Homo sapiens: one gene and its partners. The protein of the gene in region 2 purifies or fractionates together with the protein of the main gene of each other region. This does not show direct contact. Each region holds a gene or a part of one and is shown on either strand. Other genes may lie near its edges.

Region 1 (5,423 bases), on a different chromosome or scaffold from region 2:
CCAGGCTGGAGTGCAGTGGCGCGATCTTGGCTCACTGCAATCTCCGACTACCAGGTTCAAGTGATTCTTGAGCCTCAGCCTCCGAGTAGCTGGGATTACAGGAATGCATCACCGCGCCTGGCTAATTTTTGTATTTTTTTTTTTCTAGACAGAGTCTTGCTCTGTCACCCAGGCTGGAGTGCAGTGGTGCAATCTCGGCTCACTGCAACCTCCGCCTCCTGGGTTCAAGCAATTCTCCTGCCTCAACCTCCTTAGTAGCTGGGATTACAGGCGCTTGCCACCACACCCGGCTAATTTTTGTATTTTTAGTAGAGGCAGGGTTTCACCATGTTGGCCAGGCTGATCCTGACCTCGTGATTCACCCACCTGGGCCTCACAAGGTGCTGGGATAACAGGCGTGAGCCACCATGCCCGGCCTAGGATTCTAAAATTTTTAAAAGGCAGTCATAAAATTATAAGCAACAAATTGTTTGCAAATTATTCAAATTTTCTATGTCTCACAGAGGCACTTCTCCTTTCTTTTTAGCATGATAAATTCATGAAAATGAAACACAGATGGTAATGGATAATAAACAGCTTTATCCAGTGTTTGTCTGAACAAGACAATAAAAGCTTCATCACAGTACTTAATCACTAGTTCCCACCGTCCCCATATACCCCCTAAACAGTGCAAAACAGGGGAAAAATGTAAAGCACCCACCACTCGATTCTAATTTGGCTTATAATTTGGTTTACTTAATATGAATAAAAAAATCCTGTTCAGATATAAGTAACAGCATATATGTAGCTTGGATTTGGTAATAAGTATTTAATTAATTTTCTAATTTGGGAGTTGGGGGGTTTTGAGAAGGATAGTGAAAGAGGGATTATGAAGGTTTACCATAACTGAAATCAAATAAACAATTGTTTTTGAATGCCAGGATGCCTTTTTTTGAACATCTGTCATGAACAGCTAAATGTTTACAATGGCTATATTGATTAAACTTGAGTTGCTAAAAACATACCTGCAATTGCTTTCCATCTGGTTGTGAAGCAATGTAGTTGACTTGTTGGGATGGTGGGGGAGGGGGTGGTGGTGGTGGTAGTCCCTGAGATACACTGGTAGGAGTGGCTACCTGCATGAGGGGCACTCCTGTGTGGAGATGCAAGGGTAGCTGAGGATGAATGTTAAATGGATTGCGTTGGATGTTCATCAAAGGAGCATGAACACCCACTGGATATGGGAAGATATTCATAGGCTGGTGTTGTGCATTCATTTGTTGCTGCATTACATTCATTTGCGGTTGCATCATATTTATAGGTAGCTGAGAACCATCAACTTGCTGGTTTGTTTGGTCTTTTAGGCTAGAATCTATCAAAAGAAAAAAAGCTTGTGAAAAAAATCATGTTATAAATCTCTTTAGACAGAGAAACAAAGAACCACTGGTTACAGTAAAATTAAATAGCAATTAATAGGCTCAGTATACCAATACCAATCTCCAATTGCTTAATTTAATCCTGTCATTTCTAAATAATGTGGACTGACTTTCTAATGAAAGAAAACATTTGGCGAGGCACGGTGGCTCAAGCCTGTAATCCCAGCACTTTGGGAGGCCAAGGCGGGCAGATCACCTGAGGTCAGGTGTTCGAGAGCAGCCTGGCCAACATGGTGAAACCCCGTCTCTACTAAAAAAATACAAAAATTAGCCAGGCGTGGTGGTGAGCGCCTGTAATCCCAGCTAGTCAGGAGGCTGGAGAATTGCTTGAACCCAGGAGGTGGAGGTTGCAGTGAGCAAAGATCATGCCATTGCACTCCAGCCTGGGCAACAACAGAGAAACTCCATCTCAAAAAACAAAACGAACATTCACCTGAAAATATTTTTAAGAATAAGTTCATGCAAAACATACATCAACAATCAGTAGCTCAAGAAACTGACTAGTTAAAAAAAAAAATCACATAAAATTTAACTACTAAATTATAAGGTTATTCAATTTTTACATCTTCAACAGCCTTTATCTTGCAATGTTCTTAACAAGAAAAAAAACAAGGAAATATAAATCTTTACTATTAAAACAATGGCTTATTTTATTTGTATGAGAACAATTATCAAAAAAATTAAAAGTGTACATATCTGAAATAAACAAATTAGAGGTTAAATCCTGCATAGGAATATCCCAAACTCTTCTATTGTAGCAAACAGTGCTGAAAATATTTAAGTCTTTGGCAAGGTTTGGAGCAGAGGTAGCATTAATAATATACTTATGTAGATAAACGTACGTGTATATATATTTATATAATGCTAAGTGACTTGTAAACAACTAAGGTTCAGCTTATTATAAAAACTACAAATAAGGATCATTTCAACTCATACAAATAACATATTAAATTTATAATTCTTCAAATAAAACAGTATCAATAAACCAACAAGAATACATTACCCTGTCCAGATGTTTCCTCCTCTTGTTTCATCCATCCAGACTGTGGACCTGAAGAATTTCTGCCTCGTCGTGAGTAGTAGTTTTGTACATCTGCTGGCAAAGTCTTTCTCACGGCCCAGCTGGATGCAGATGTCCATCCAGATCTATCTGCTGGTGTATCAAATGAGAACTCCTGTTCACTTTTTCGCTTATAGGATTGCTGTTCCACAAACTTGAAAGATTCACTCCCTGAACTGTTTGAATTCCCTGAGAGGGGTTTTCGATTTTGCCACCGATTTTCATTCTGATCTTTATAGGCAAAACTACTTCTGTAAGTGCCTCTGCCACGGTTGCCTCTGCCTCTACCACGGTTAGATACCCAACCAGAACCAAAGTTTTTATTCCAAGAATTTCCTGAATTTTCATTTCTATTTTCTTCCCAATGAGACTCTTTCAACTTTTCTGGATTTCTGGTTCTTGGATCAGGCCCAGAGTTTATTTTTTCTGTTATCCAATTGGGACAGTCATTTCTATGTTTGTCAGCAGAATTTGGATCATCAGCATCTAGATGGATGTCATTTTTTTCTTTTCTTGTATTTTCATTCTGTTTCTCTGGGTCATTCTTTCTGTACCGATCATTTCCTCGTGGACATCTCCAACCATCATTTGCCCATCTTCCCTTCCACCGGGGAGAGTAACTATCTCTGTCAATTCTACCAAATGATGAACTCTTACTTTTTGTTCTACATCTTGAGGGGGACCTAGAATGAGATCTGGACCTAGACCACTTTCTGGTTCTCCTTTCTCTCTCTCTCCTCTGCCCATCTCTATCACTTTCTCGTTCTCTGCTCTGGGACCTGGATTTTTCTCCTGGGGAAGAATCTTTCACTCTTGGCTGAGATCTTTTGTTCTCTCTAGAAGTTTCTCTTCTTGGGGACAGTGATTCAGATCTTCTGCTTTCCCTAGTAGTATCCCTTTTTGGAGACCGAGACTGAGATTGCCTCCTTTCTCTTGCAATATCCTTTTTTGGGGACTGAGAACGGGATTTTTTCCGGCCTCTGGCTGACTCATTCTTAGGAGATGGTGATTGAGACTTCCTGCTTTCTTTCCCAGTTTCTCTTCTGGGAGATGGAGACTGGGGCCGCTTCTTTTCTTGTGGAGTGTCTTTGTTGGGTGACCAAGTTGTAGATGGAGAATGAAATCTAGATCTTCGAGTACGAGGCTTTTTGGTTTTATCTATGGTATCTTTTGGGCTTTCAGATGGTTGAGAAACAGTTTCAACCTTTTCATCCGCAAGATCAGAAGACGGCATATTATTTTCAGAACAGTGTGTCACAGAATTTTCATTCATTTGTTTAAGATCAGCATTTACAGATGGTTCAACTTCAGATTCATTTTGGTCACTGCAAAATGAATCACACTCCATAGGTATCATTTCATTGTTGTCCTCACTAAAATGCTTCTGAATCTGTTCAATGTGTGTTTTAGGCAACTCTGTAGATCTAGGATGTTCGGTCAGCGATTCATTCTTTTCTTCTAAAGATTTTTCCAATTTGGTGTTCAGAAGATTATTTTTTAGTAAGTTATTTTCAGAGTCTTGAATATTATTGAAATCTTCATTCCCAAAAGTATCACATGTTGCAATTATTTCTACATCTTCAGTTTCAACATGCCCAAGCAATTGAACCTCTGGGCTCTTAACAGATTGTCTGTCCACTGTCTGTATAATTTCACCCTCAGAAGATTCTAACTTGGGGCTCTCTATAAGCTCCTCTGTTTTTAGTGTAAAATCTTTATGTTCAGTAATTTCTACTAGGGAACTCTCTGTTATTTTTTCTTCATTAACCACTGACTCTACATTCTCAGATAAGTCACTTAGGGGACAAGATACAGGTTGGTACACTTTGCTTTCAGATGTTAAACATGTAGGAAAATCATTTGGAAGATGAACTGTACATACATCTGTCTTTACCTCTGATTGTGAAAGTCCAGATATCTGGTCTTGCTTTTCCAATGGATCACCTCCTTTTTCAAGAATATTTTCAGAAATCTCACTTTCCAAACACAAAACATTAGCCTCTATACCTGTATTCTCGAGTTTTTTAACTTCCCCTTCCTCACCAACTAGCACAGGAAGATCTTGAGCACAAGACTCAGAAGATGAAGATCCTACTCTTTCCTCTGTATCATAATTTGCAGTATGCTTCTCACTTTCTTCTATTTGCTCATTGCAACTTTTCAAGCAATTAGCAGACTGGTTTTCTACATGAGTCTGCACAGTACAAATGTTACTACTGTCTACATCTGGTTGGTGCTCTTTTTCTAACACAGGTGATGTGTCAGATTCTGCTGTTTCTTCATCTACTGAATCATTGGAAGATGATTTTTCAGGGGCAGCTACAGAGCTCCGAAGTTTCTTTTTCAGTAAAGGTGGTTTTCTTCCTCTTCTTACAGACTTCCGTTTTGGAGCCTGTCTTGTTTGCTTTTCTGACTCAGCTGAAGAGGGAACACTTAAAGATGGATTACTGTTACCTGGGGCATCACACCCAGAATTGTCTGATATTGGGGATCTCTGAGACTGACTGGCTGTTTCAGCTCTTGTGTTACGTGTAGACCTCCTTGTAGGAGTTGTCATTGCAGGTTTTCGTCTTGATCCTCTGGTATTTGATGTACCAGAAGTTTGCTTCTTTTCTTCCCCTTCTTGAGTATGTGCTAATGCATATCCCTTGCAAGAAGTACCTAATAATATTTAAAAAAAAAAAAAAAGTAAAAAATATGTTTTAAGAAATAGTAATTTGGCTTTAGCTAATTTTAGCATAAAATAGTCTGCAACAGAGTGAAACTAAATACTTATAAATAAAACTATTAATAAATGCATAGCTACTAACATCTGAGTAATATGACTTATTCATCAACTTTCTTAATGACACTGAAATAAGTTATAACTAGATTTGGTCCAAATGGGCAATTTTATAGAGAAAAAAAAAAAGGAAAATAACTTTTGGTCTTGTAACTGCTACTTGCTT
Region 2 (4,283 bases):
ACTTGAAAATGACATGGTCACTTCAGTGCCTCTGCATGTTGTGTAAAAAAAAAAAAAAAACTCAAAAAAGGAAAGCAGGACAAGGATGTGTCATTACAAGACACAGTATGCTGTACAAACAAAACCTAAATTATATATAAATACACCCCCACCCCAGAACCCTGTCTTCCCTCACTACCTGATCAAAGCAATGCCAAGGGTCCCTCCCTCCAGGGCCAATGTAGCTTTTAAAGTCCAGAACCCAGGACTTTAAGCATCCCTTGCCTTGCGGTGACGTTTACAGTACTGCAACCTCCTGTTGGAGTCACCTGTTTGATCAGTTCCGTAAGTGCAGGGTAACACCTACAGCTTAATTGGAAGCATTCACTCTACTGGCTGGATTCAAAGACCTGGAGTCCTGGGAGTTAACCTTTCAGATAAACTAACTGGATCATTTCCTAATCTGGATCCTATCTAATCCTACTATCTCCTCAGAGCCAACACAGTAGGAAGCATCTTCTACTCTGAAGCTTCCAAAGGCATTACTTAGGGATATTGGTGAGGGTCACATAAGAAAAGTTATACAATGAGCTAACAGCTTAAGTTGATATAAATTACTTCCAAGTAAGTTATTCAGGGCCGTTTGCTTCTGCTTTACACTGCATTCCACAGTCATTTTCATATTATTCTTTTAAAAGTTTATACTATAGTCACTTTAAAAATTGTCTAAGCAATCACCTCTTTGTGTTTTTGATTAATAACAACTTAATGAGCTATTATATAAATCAAGAGAGAAATAATTAGTCTTAAGGAAGCCAATAATGTGCTAATTCCCAGTAAGGAGAAAAAGCAATGTAAATAGAATTTTACATAACCAACAATAACTTGGAAAGCAGTTTTATCAAAATGGTTTTGCAAAGGTTTCCCAAAAGCACTTACAGCAGTTTATATCAAGAGATCCTAAGTTTAGGGGTATGGAGAATCTCAATTCTTTAAAGCAGAAATTCACCTGTTTCATAATTGTAATATGTAATTTTCTCCCCTTGGACCTAAGATATTTATACATTCAAAAGTTTACAACTTGCTGTTCTTGAGACATTGTTCATTCTTTAATACATACATTGAGTATAAATAAATAACTACAAGAAAGCTTCAACAATCTGAATTAACATTATGCTGTGCAAAACAAAAACAAAAACAAAAACAAAAAACAAAAAAAAAGTCAAACCTTGAACAACCTACATTCTATGTAAATACCCTGACTAAAATATTGGTTGTGCTACACAATTCCACTTTAGTGCAGAAATGCATTGATTTCACTGTACCGTTGTTGTTGGCTTTTTAAGTGTCTTTAGCACTTCTGTTTCTAAGCATTGCCTTGCTTTGAAAAGATGAATAATTTGCTACCAAATCACAAATCATCACAAATCCATTTTAGTTTGGTCTGAATAAAATCCAGCATAAATGTATTATTTTATTCTGGGTATAATGGCTCGGTGTCTTTGTCCCAACAGCTTTCTTCTTAAGGGCAAACCACCCTTAAGTGAAACTTGCCATTTGTTTTTGTTTTCTTTTTAAGTCTCCAGATCTTGCTAGGACACTTCTTCCAGACCAACAGTCAGATAGTTGTGGCACGTGATCCTATTTGAAATAGAGGTGGTTTAAATCAGCCAAGCTTGGTGATCTGGAGGTCTCCATTTATCTTTATGGTGTCAATTGCAGATAACGTTTGAATGCGATGGTAAAAATCAAAAAGTTGGTGTCCATCCACAAACACTCGGAAACGTGGGTGCTCACAAAGAATTTCCACCTGGAAGAAACAAAATAATAATCCACAATTTCAATGAACGCTACTGGGGAAAACAAACAATACTTCATTTTAGAGAAAGAAAGGCAGTATCTTCAGTGGTTCACAAACATCAGAATGCATTGAGACCTGCAGAGGGCTTGTTAGAACACAGATTGTTGGGCTCTACCTCCAAAATTTCTGATTCCTGTGTAGAATGTAAGTGTAAAAGCTTTTTCCTCAAGTAATTTACCATAAAGTTCAATTACTGGTAGTGTGCTATGATGGGTTTATTAAAAGCATTGGCATTCACCATGTAAGGAGGCTCCATATGTGATACTAGTCACATTTATTTTATATTACTAAATTTTATCACCAAGAAGGGCCTATTTCACTTCAGTTTTGCTGTTGGGAGCATTATATTCCTCCTGGCAGTCAGAAGCTGTGGTTACTCACATTCATGAGCTATGCATTAAGGTTCATCACTAAGAAACTATCCTAGCCAAGAGGAGCCCAAGGGGACATCACCATTCTAGAGAAGGGGATGAGGAGAGATAATGGGTCAAGGGTGCCTTCCAGAGACTATAACTAGAAGTGCAACTATCTCAATTCTACCACCAATGCAAAAATCATGGATTCTTATTTTCCCCAGAATGTAAGAAGAGAAGTGAAAGAATTACTTCTTCATGAGGCACTTGAAAATTTCTAGATGAAGGGTAACCAGTTAAGTGTAGTTGTGTTTTATTGGGCTCACATGTAACATGGAGCTTTTAACTGAGTTGTCATTATTGTGATGTAATGTTAAGGTGTAATGACAATTCATCACTAGGTCTGACCCCTTTTTAACACCATTACTACTTGCATTTCCCTTTATTTTTTTTTTTTTTGACAGAGCCTTGCTCTGTCACCCAGGCTGGAGTGCAGTGATGCACACATAGCTCACTGCAGCCTTGAATTCCTGGGCTCAAGCAATCCTCCCGTCTCAGCCTCCCAAGTAGCTAGGACTACAGGTGTGTGACACCATGGCAGGCTAATTTTTTTTTTTTTAAAGGCAGGGTTTTTGCTGTGTTTCCTAGGCTGGTCTTGAACTCCTTTGCTCAAGCAATCCTCTTGCCTCAGCCTCCCAAAGTGGTGGGATTATAGGCACAAGCCACTGTGCCACTACCTGCATCTCTTATTTGGCATTGCCTTTCATAGAGGAAGGGGCTGCTAATGCTGCTTGATTGGATGAAAAGTTTGGATTGTGCTTCCTGCCCAGAAGATAGTGGGGAGCAAATCTTTATTCATCCAGCCCCAAGGGAAGGAATTTGTCAGCCACACAGCCTGTAACCATGAAATAGACTGAGGCTAATTAATCCAGAGGGGGAAACAAGGACACGAACATGGCCTCATTAGCAAAGGGAACAAGAGAAAATGAAATGATCATCATCATATTCTTTAAAATGTCATACAAATAAAAGAGCTACTTATTAGCTCTCAACCTTATTAATATTAATATTTAATAAGTGGGTACTTAGTATTGATTAATCAATCAGATATTTGGGGGTAGGTATCTACTATATGTTGGGTACTACATAGAAAAGTTACTTATTCTTAACAATTTGGACATGTAAATATGGGTCTATTTAAATGTATGACCTGAATAGAACTAAGAAGATACTATGGCAAGTGTTAATTTATATCAGCAAACAGAGCTCTTTTGATCTTTTTTTTTCACCATTGGGTGACAAATTTCCTGGACATGCAGAAATTCTGGCTGCTTCAAGTGTTCTTGGCACACACTAGGTAAGTCGAACATTATCAGCCTGCCAGTGGCTGGAGCCGAGGCACTCGAGGTACTCACCCTGAATGGCTGGTCTGGAATGAATGGAAAGTAAGGGATTGCTGACTGTTCTTCACCCCTCTCCCCAGATATACAAGAATTTCTGAGTAGCTGCCGATCTGTGAACACAGCTTTGAGTTCGATTGCCACATCGGCAGGAGGGTCTTCTGAGTCCCCACAGGTCAAGCTGATTGCAAAGCTGAAAAGAAAATCATCCCACTGATTAAGGGTTGGATATAAAAACATTTCAAAATGACCCAAGTGCTTATATTTCTTCTTCCTCCTCTGGGTTTGTCCATTTTTAAGAGGCCACTACTCTTCAAGAGAGGTTAGATTATGGAGAAGTAAGTCAAACCAGCTTATTTTGTTACCTAAAGCAAGCTCTGGTGAAAACTTTGGTGTTGAAAATGACTAAAATTAGAGAATTCCACTTCGGAATTCTCAAAAACAGCCACAGAAATTGACCAGGGGAAATAATGTTAAGTTGGGTTCTTATTCATCTTGATAGTTCTTGCTCCTGGCACCATGTTTCAAAACCATTAAAAAAAAAAAAAAAAATCCTCTGGCCTCCCTAAGGGTCAAAGAGAAAATGTGGGCCTATATTTATAATCTCTGATATAAATAGCTGTCTGGAGAAATGATGGCTGGGATTCATACATATTCGTTTCATGGGAACATGGTACTTTCTTGGCACTG
Region 3 (5,423 bases), on a different chromosome or scaffold from region 2:
AGGTTAAAATTAAGAGTTAGCTTATTTCATTTCTAAATCAGCAGCAGCAGAAAACAACAGCAAAAACAAAAAGAAAGCAATGTCACAACCATAAAATGTATAACCGAGATAATATGAAAACAATATTGCTTCTCAGGAACAAGGAGCCTGCAAAAAGCTCTGGAGCTCCCTGATTGCATGCAGTAACAACACTTTTTAAGCATCAAGTATTCAAAGATGTATTGTATATTATTTGTGGAAGCCCAGAAAGTTTCCCAAATCTTATCAGCTAAAAACAATTTAGAAGAGAACAAGCCACTGAACAATTTGGTCCCACTTCACTTTTGATTAAAAAGACCCTACTTACATAAAGAATCAATATCTAGACTATTAGGAACAACTTTTGGCAGAATATATACAGAACAGGGCAAACACTTTCTTAGAATTTTGAAGGATTCCATATAGTTCAAACTGCTCTTCCTACAAAAGAAATTAATCCTGGGCATTTTCTCTGGCACGACTGGTGGTTTATTGTAGTAGTTGATAAAAAGACCACCCTGACATTAGCAAAACATAACTGGGATCACTAAGGATAAACTCTGAAAAACACCTCAATGGGGAATAAAAAATAAAAAAATATGGCCAGGTGTGGTGGCTCACGCCTGTAAATCCCAGCACTTTCGGAGGCAGAGGCAGGTGGATCACAAGGTCAGGAGTTCAAGACCAGCCTGGCCAAGATGGTGAAACCCCGTCTCTACTAGAACTACAAAAATTAGCCTCGTGCAGTGGCAGGTGCCTGTAATCCCAGCTACTTGGGAGACTGAGGCAGGAGGATTGCTTGAACCCGGGCAGCAGACATTGCACTCCAGCCTGGGCTATAGAGTAAGACTCTGTCTCTAAATAAATAAATAAATAAATAAATAACAAAAAATAAAAAAAATATTTCCCTGGCAAAAGTAAGATATATTTGAGCCTGCAATTCCTGGTGTATCTCTCCTGACTCCTTAGGGAAAAGATTACAAGGTGTGTATGAGGAGTTGGGGAGTTTGAATGAATGGCATATGAGGTCAAACACTGAACACAAAGGAAACATTAAGGAAACATACAAATAAGCAAGCATAAACCAAGCCGATAGGATAAGGTATCTTTCTACAAAAAAACAGTACATTGCTTTGTTTTAGGTCTCAAGGGATAAACAAGGTCACTGATTAATGCAAAATAAAAAGAAACAGGGATCACAATAGTGAGACAAAAATAAAAGAGAAGGCATTTATAATACTCAACTATTAAGATTTTAAGTCATAAATTTTCATGTGCCAAACAACATATCATAGATCATCTAAGAAAAAGTGCTAGACATAGAAAAACTAAGAGAAAATAGACTGGCCAACTTTAAATTCTCTCTCTCCTTGGAGGCCTAAACCAGAAAAAAATAAATAAAATATTACATAAAAGACGAAGACTCATTCTTTATATAGTTACTGAAAGAGCTTTTCTCAACCATTTTAATCAGTCACAAAGAAAACAATTCTGAAAAGCAAAAGCTGAATAGGTAACATTCTCTGTAAACTATGCAATAACATTCAAAAGTTAACAGAGTTAGTTTATTCATTCACCAAATCTTTTGAACGTCTGTTATGCGCTGAAGATACCACAGTAAATAAAATGGATATAGTCCCTACCACTGTACAAACTTATGGTCGAGTCAGACCAGTGCTGTCTCACAGAAACATAATGAGAGCCACATGTGGTTTTCTATTTCCTAGTAGTCACATTGAAATTTAAAAATTGGCTGGGCACGGTGGCTCACGCCTGTAATCCCAAGACTTTCAGAGGCCAAGGCAGACAGATTACTTGAGCTCTAAAGTTCAAGACCGGCTGAGCGCGGTAGCTCACGCCTATAATCCCAGCACTTTGGGAGGCCACAGTGGGCGGATCACCTGAGGTCAGGTGTTCGAGACCAGCCTGGCCAATATGGCGAAACCCAGTCTCTACTTAAAATACAAAAATTAGCCAGGCGTGGTGGCACTCGCCTGTAATCCCAGCTACTCCGGAGGCTGAGGCAGGAGAATCACTTGAACCCGGGGGCTGGAGGCTGCAGTTAGCCGAGATCGTGCCACTGTACTCCAGCCTGGGCAACAGAGCGAGACTCCATCTCAAAAAAAAAGTTCAAGACCAGCCTGGGCAACACAGTGAAACCCCATCTCTACAAAAAATTTTAAAAATTTTTAAAAATTATACAGGCATGGTGGCGCGCCTGTAGTCCCAGCTACTTAGGAGGCTGAGGTGGGAGGATCCCTTGAGCCAGGGAGGTTGAGACTACAGTGAGCCAACATCACATCACTGCACTCCATCCTGGGCGACAAAGGCAACACCATGTCTCAAAAACAAACAAACAAACAAACAAAAAAAAAAAAAACAGGCCAGGCGCGGTGGTGCTCGCCTGTAGTCCCAGCTACTTGGGAAGCAGAGGCAGGAGAATCACTTGAACCCAGGAGGCAGAGGTTGCAGTGAGCCGAGATTGTGCCACTGCACTCCAGCCTGGGCAACAGAGTAAGATTCCGTCTCAAGAAAAAAAAATTTTTTTAATTAAGAAATAAAATTAACAGTAATAGTATATTTTAACACAATACATGTAAAATATCACTACTTCAATATGTAATATTTTAAAAATTGAGATATTTTCATTGTTTGGTACTAGAAATCAAGTTCCTATTTCAAACTTAATACATCAGTTCAGACTTGCCATATCTCAATAGTCAGATGTGACTATTTAAATAAAATATGGTAGCCATTAGCCACAGGACTATAAATTAAGATAAGTATCTATTATTGCAGAAGACTGTCTCTCTGCTGTCCAACACAATCGCCACTAGCCACATAAGGCCACTGAGTGAGCACCTAGAATGTGACTAATACAAATGAGGAACTGAATTTTTAATATTAAATTAAATTTAAATTTATTTAAATAGCCACAAGTGGATGGTAGCTACCAGACTATGGTTCTGGAAGAAGAAATAGATGCTAAAACAATTCACACAAACTTAATGAACTGGAGTTGTTACAAATGTTTATGAAAGAAAAGCCCAATATAAAATGAGCCCATGAAGCCAAGAGAAAGACCTAACCTATTTTGTGGCATCAAGGAAGGATTCCTCAAGGAAATCACAACTAAGCAAAACAAAAGCATATGCAAAGGTCTTGAGTAGAGAAAACTGAAAACAGTAGAAATAATGAAGAAAAGTAACAAGAGGTAAAATAATATATGCTATTTGTAGGAGACTGATTTGGATTACAAAATCAAAACTCCATAGGAAGGCAGGAGGGGTGGAAGCAGCCCTACCATTTGGAAATAAAAAATAAAAGTCTCCCAAACAAGTCCTGAAACAAAGCTTGTCCCACTGTCCTCCCTCAGTAAACACCAGTCATTCTAATCTTCTGTCAAATTCAAAGTCAAGTCAAGCACTTTGCATATGTACCATTTGTGCCAGCAGTTCTCTTCACATGGGAAACTACCTTCAACTTCTTGATTTTAGAACTCAGAATCAAAGTTCCAAATTTTCTACACAGGACAAGCTTTGGAGCAGCAATCCAGCTGGAAGATGGGGAAGAGGCTTCAAACTGTTTGCAATTTTTTTTTTTTTTTTTTGGGAGATGGAGTCTCACTGTGTCGCCCAGGCTAGAGTGTAGTGGTGCAGTCTCGGCTCACTGCAACCTCCGCCTCTAAGTTTCAAGTGATTCTCCTGCCTCAGCCTCCCGAGTAGCTGGGATTACAGCTACCGGCCACCACGCCCAGCTAATTTTGGTATTTTCAACAGAGATGAGGTTTCGCCACGTTGGCCAGGCTGGTCTTGAACTCTTGACATCAAGTGATCTCAGCCAGGCCTGCAAAGCAATTTTCACAAAATATTTTCCCAAAAAAACTTAGTCATTTCGGCTGGGCGTGGTGGCTCACGCCTGTAATCCCAGCACTTTGGGAGGCTGAGGCGGGTGGATCACCTGAGGTCAGGAATTTGTGACCAGCCTGGCCACCGTGGTGAAACCCCATCTCTACTAAAAATACAAAAATTAGCTGGGCATGGTGGCGCATGCCTGTAATCTCAGCTACTCAGGAGGCTGAGGCAGGAGAATTGCTTGAACCCAGGAGGCAGAGGTTGCAGCGAGCCAAGACCACACCACTGCACTCCAGCCTGGGCAACAGAGTGAGACTCCGTTTTTTTTTTTTTTTATGTTTCGATAGATTGGGAAAGCTAAAGAAACTCCCATACACACCTTGGTACCACCAATCAACTTAAACATGACATCCTCAGAGAGACAGTCTCAGATCATCCAATTAGCACCTTCTATTATTTATTTACTTCCTAGACACTTGTCGAAATCTGAAAATTCTTTATTCGTTGGTTTGTCTATATTGACAGACTGTAACTGGATGAAGGCAAGAGACCTTGTCTTGTACATAGTTGTGTCCTCAGCACTTGGCAGAATGTCTAGATGGAGCAGGTGCTTAAATACTTGTTGAAAAAATAAAAACTGCAACTGCAGGGGTTTTTAAATATATAAACATAAAAATATTACTCATCAAAATTTAAGTAATATAGCTAAAGCTATGCTCAGAGGAACATTCAATAGGATTACATTTTTTCATTATAAAACATAAAATATTATAAAAGTTGCAATTTTTTTAAGTTAAAAAATTCAAAACTGGCCAGGCACAGTGGGTCACGCCTGTAATCCCAGCACTTTGGGAGGCCGAGGTGGGTAGATCACCTGAGGTCAGGGGTTCGAGACCAGCTTGGCCAACACGATGAAACCCTATCTCTACTAAAAACACAAAAATTAGCCAGGTGTGGTGGCACACCCCTGTAATCCCAACTACTCAGAAGGCTGAGGCATGAGAATCACTTGAACCTGGAGACAAAGGCTGCAGTGAGCCAAGATCATGCCATCACACTCCAGCCTGGGCAACAGAGTAAGACTCTGTCTCCAAAAAAAAAAAAAAAAAAAAAAAAATCAAAACCAAAACTAATTTGAAGCCCCAAAAGAATAAACTAAAAAATCTGAGGACTAACAAAGCAACAACCAAAAAAGGGGGATGGGGGGGAGACTTAAACAATAACAGAAACACACTTGTTTACAAAATGAAAATACCATGCCCCATGTATACAAGTGTACACTGGTACCAAATCATTGATATTTCAATAAAACCTAAAAAGAACCAAGAAGATGTGCATTTAACATATGATAAAGGCAGCTTTATTTCAAGGCAACAAGTTGTTTTTTTTTTTAGTGGGGCCAAAATTTTTAAGGAAAAATAAGGGAGGTTATTTCACTTCACATATGTCAAAATAAATCCCAGATGAACAGAAAAAGACAGATGTGAAATATGAAACCGTAAAAGAACTAGAAGAAAACTTAACTGGGTAGGAGAAGCCTTTAAATATAAA

Evidence for each region. Proteins that work in one complex are often made in the same cells at the same time.
Region 1: the proteins of LGALSL (region 2) and SCAF11 purify together in Homo sapiens (affinity purification with mass spectrometry; one large-scale study listed by BioGRID and IntAct). This does not show direct contact.
Region 3: the proteins of LGALSL (region 2) and ZFAND6 fractionate together in Homo sapiens (co-fractionation; one large-scale study listed by BioGRID). This does not show direct contact.

The regions. Positions count from the first base shown.
Region 1 is NC_000012.12:45,923,724-45,929,146, forward strand, and holds part of SCAF11 (protein SCAF11), read right to left. Parts: intron 5,137-5,423; coding exon 2,419-5,136; intron 1,352-2,418; coding exon 1,005-1,351; intron 1-1,004. UniProt on the Homo sapiens protein: Plays a role in pre-mRNA alternative splicing by regulating spliceosome assembly.
Region 2 is NC_000002.12:64,455,791-64,460,073, reverse strand, and holds part of LGALSL (galectin-related protein), read right to left. Parts: intron 3,787-4,283; coding exon 3,609-3,786; intron 1,790-3,608; coding exon 1,646-1,789; 3' UTR 1-1,645. UniProt on the Homo sapiens protein: Does not bind lactose, and may not bind carbohydrates.
Region 3 is NC_000015.10:80,065,104-80,070,526, reverse strand, and holds part of ZFAND6 (AN1-type zinc finger protein 6), read right to left. Parts: intron 1-5,423. UniProt on the Homo sapiens protein: Involved in regulation of TNF-alpha induced NF-kappa-B activation and apoptosis. Involved in modulation of 'Lys-48'-linked polyubiquitination status of TRAF2 and decreases association of TRAF2 with RIPK1.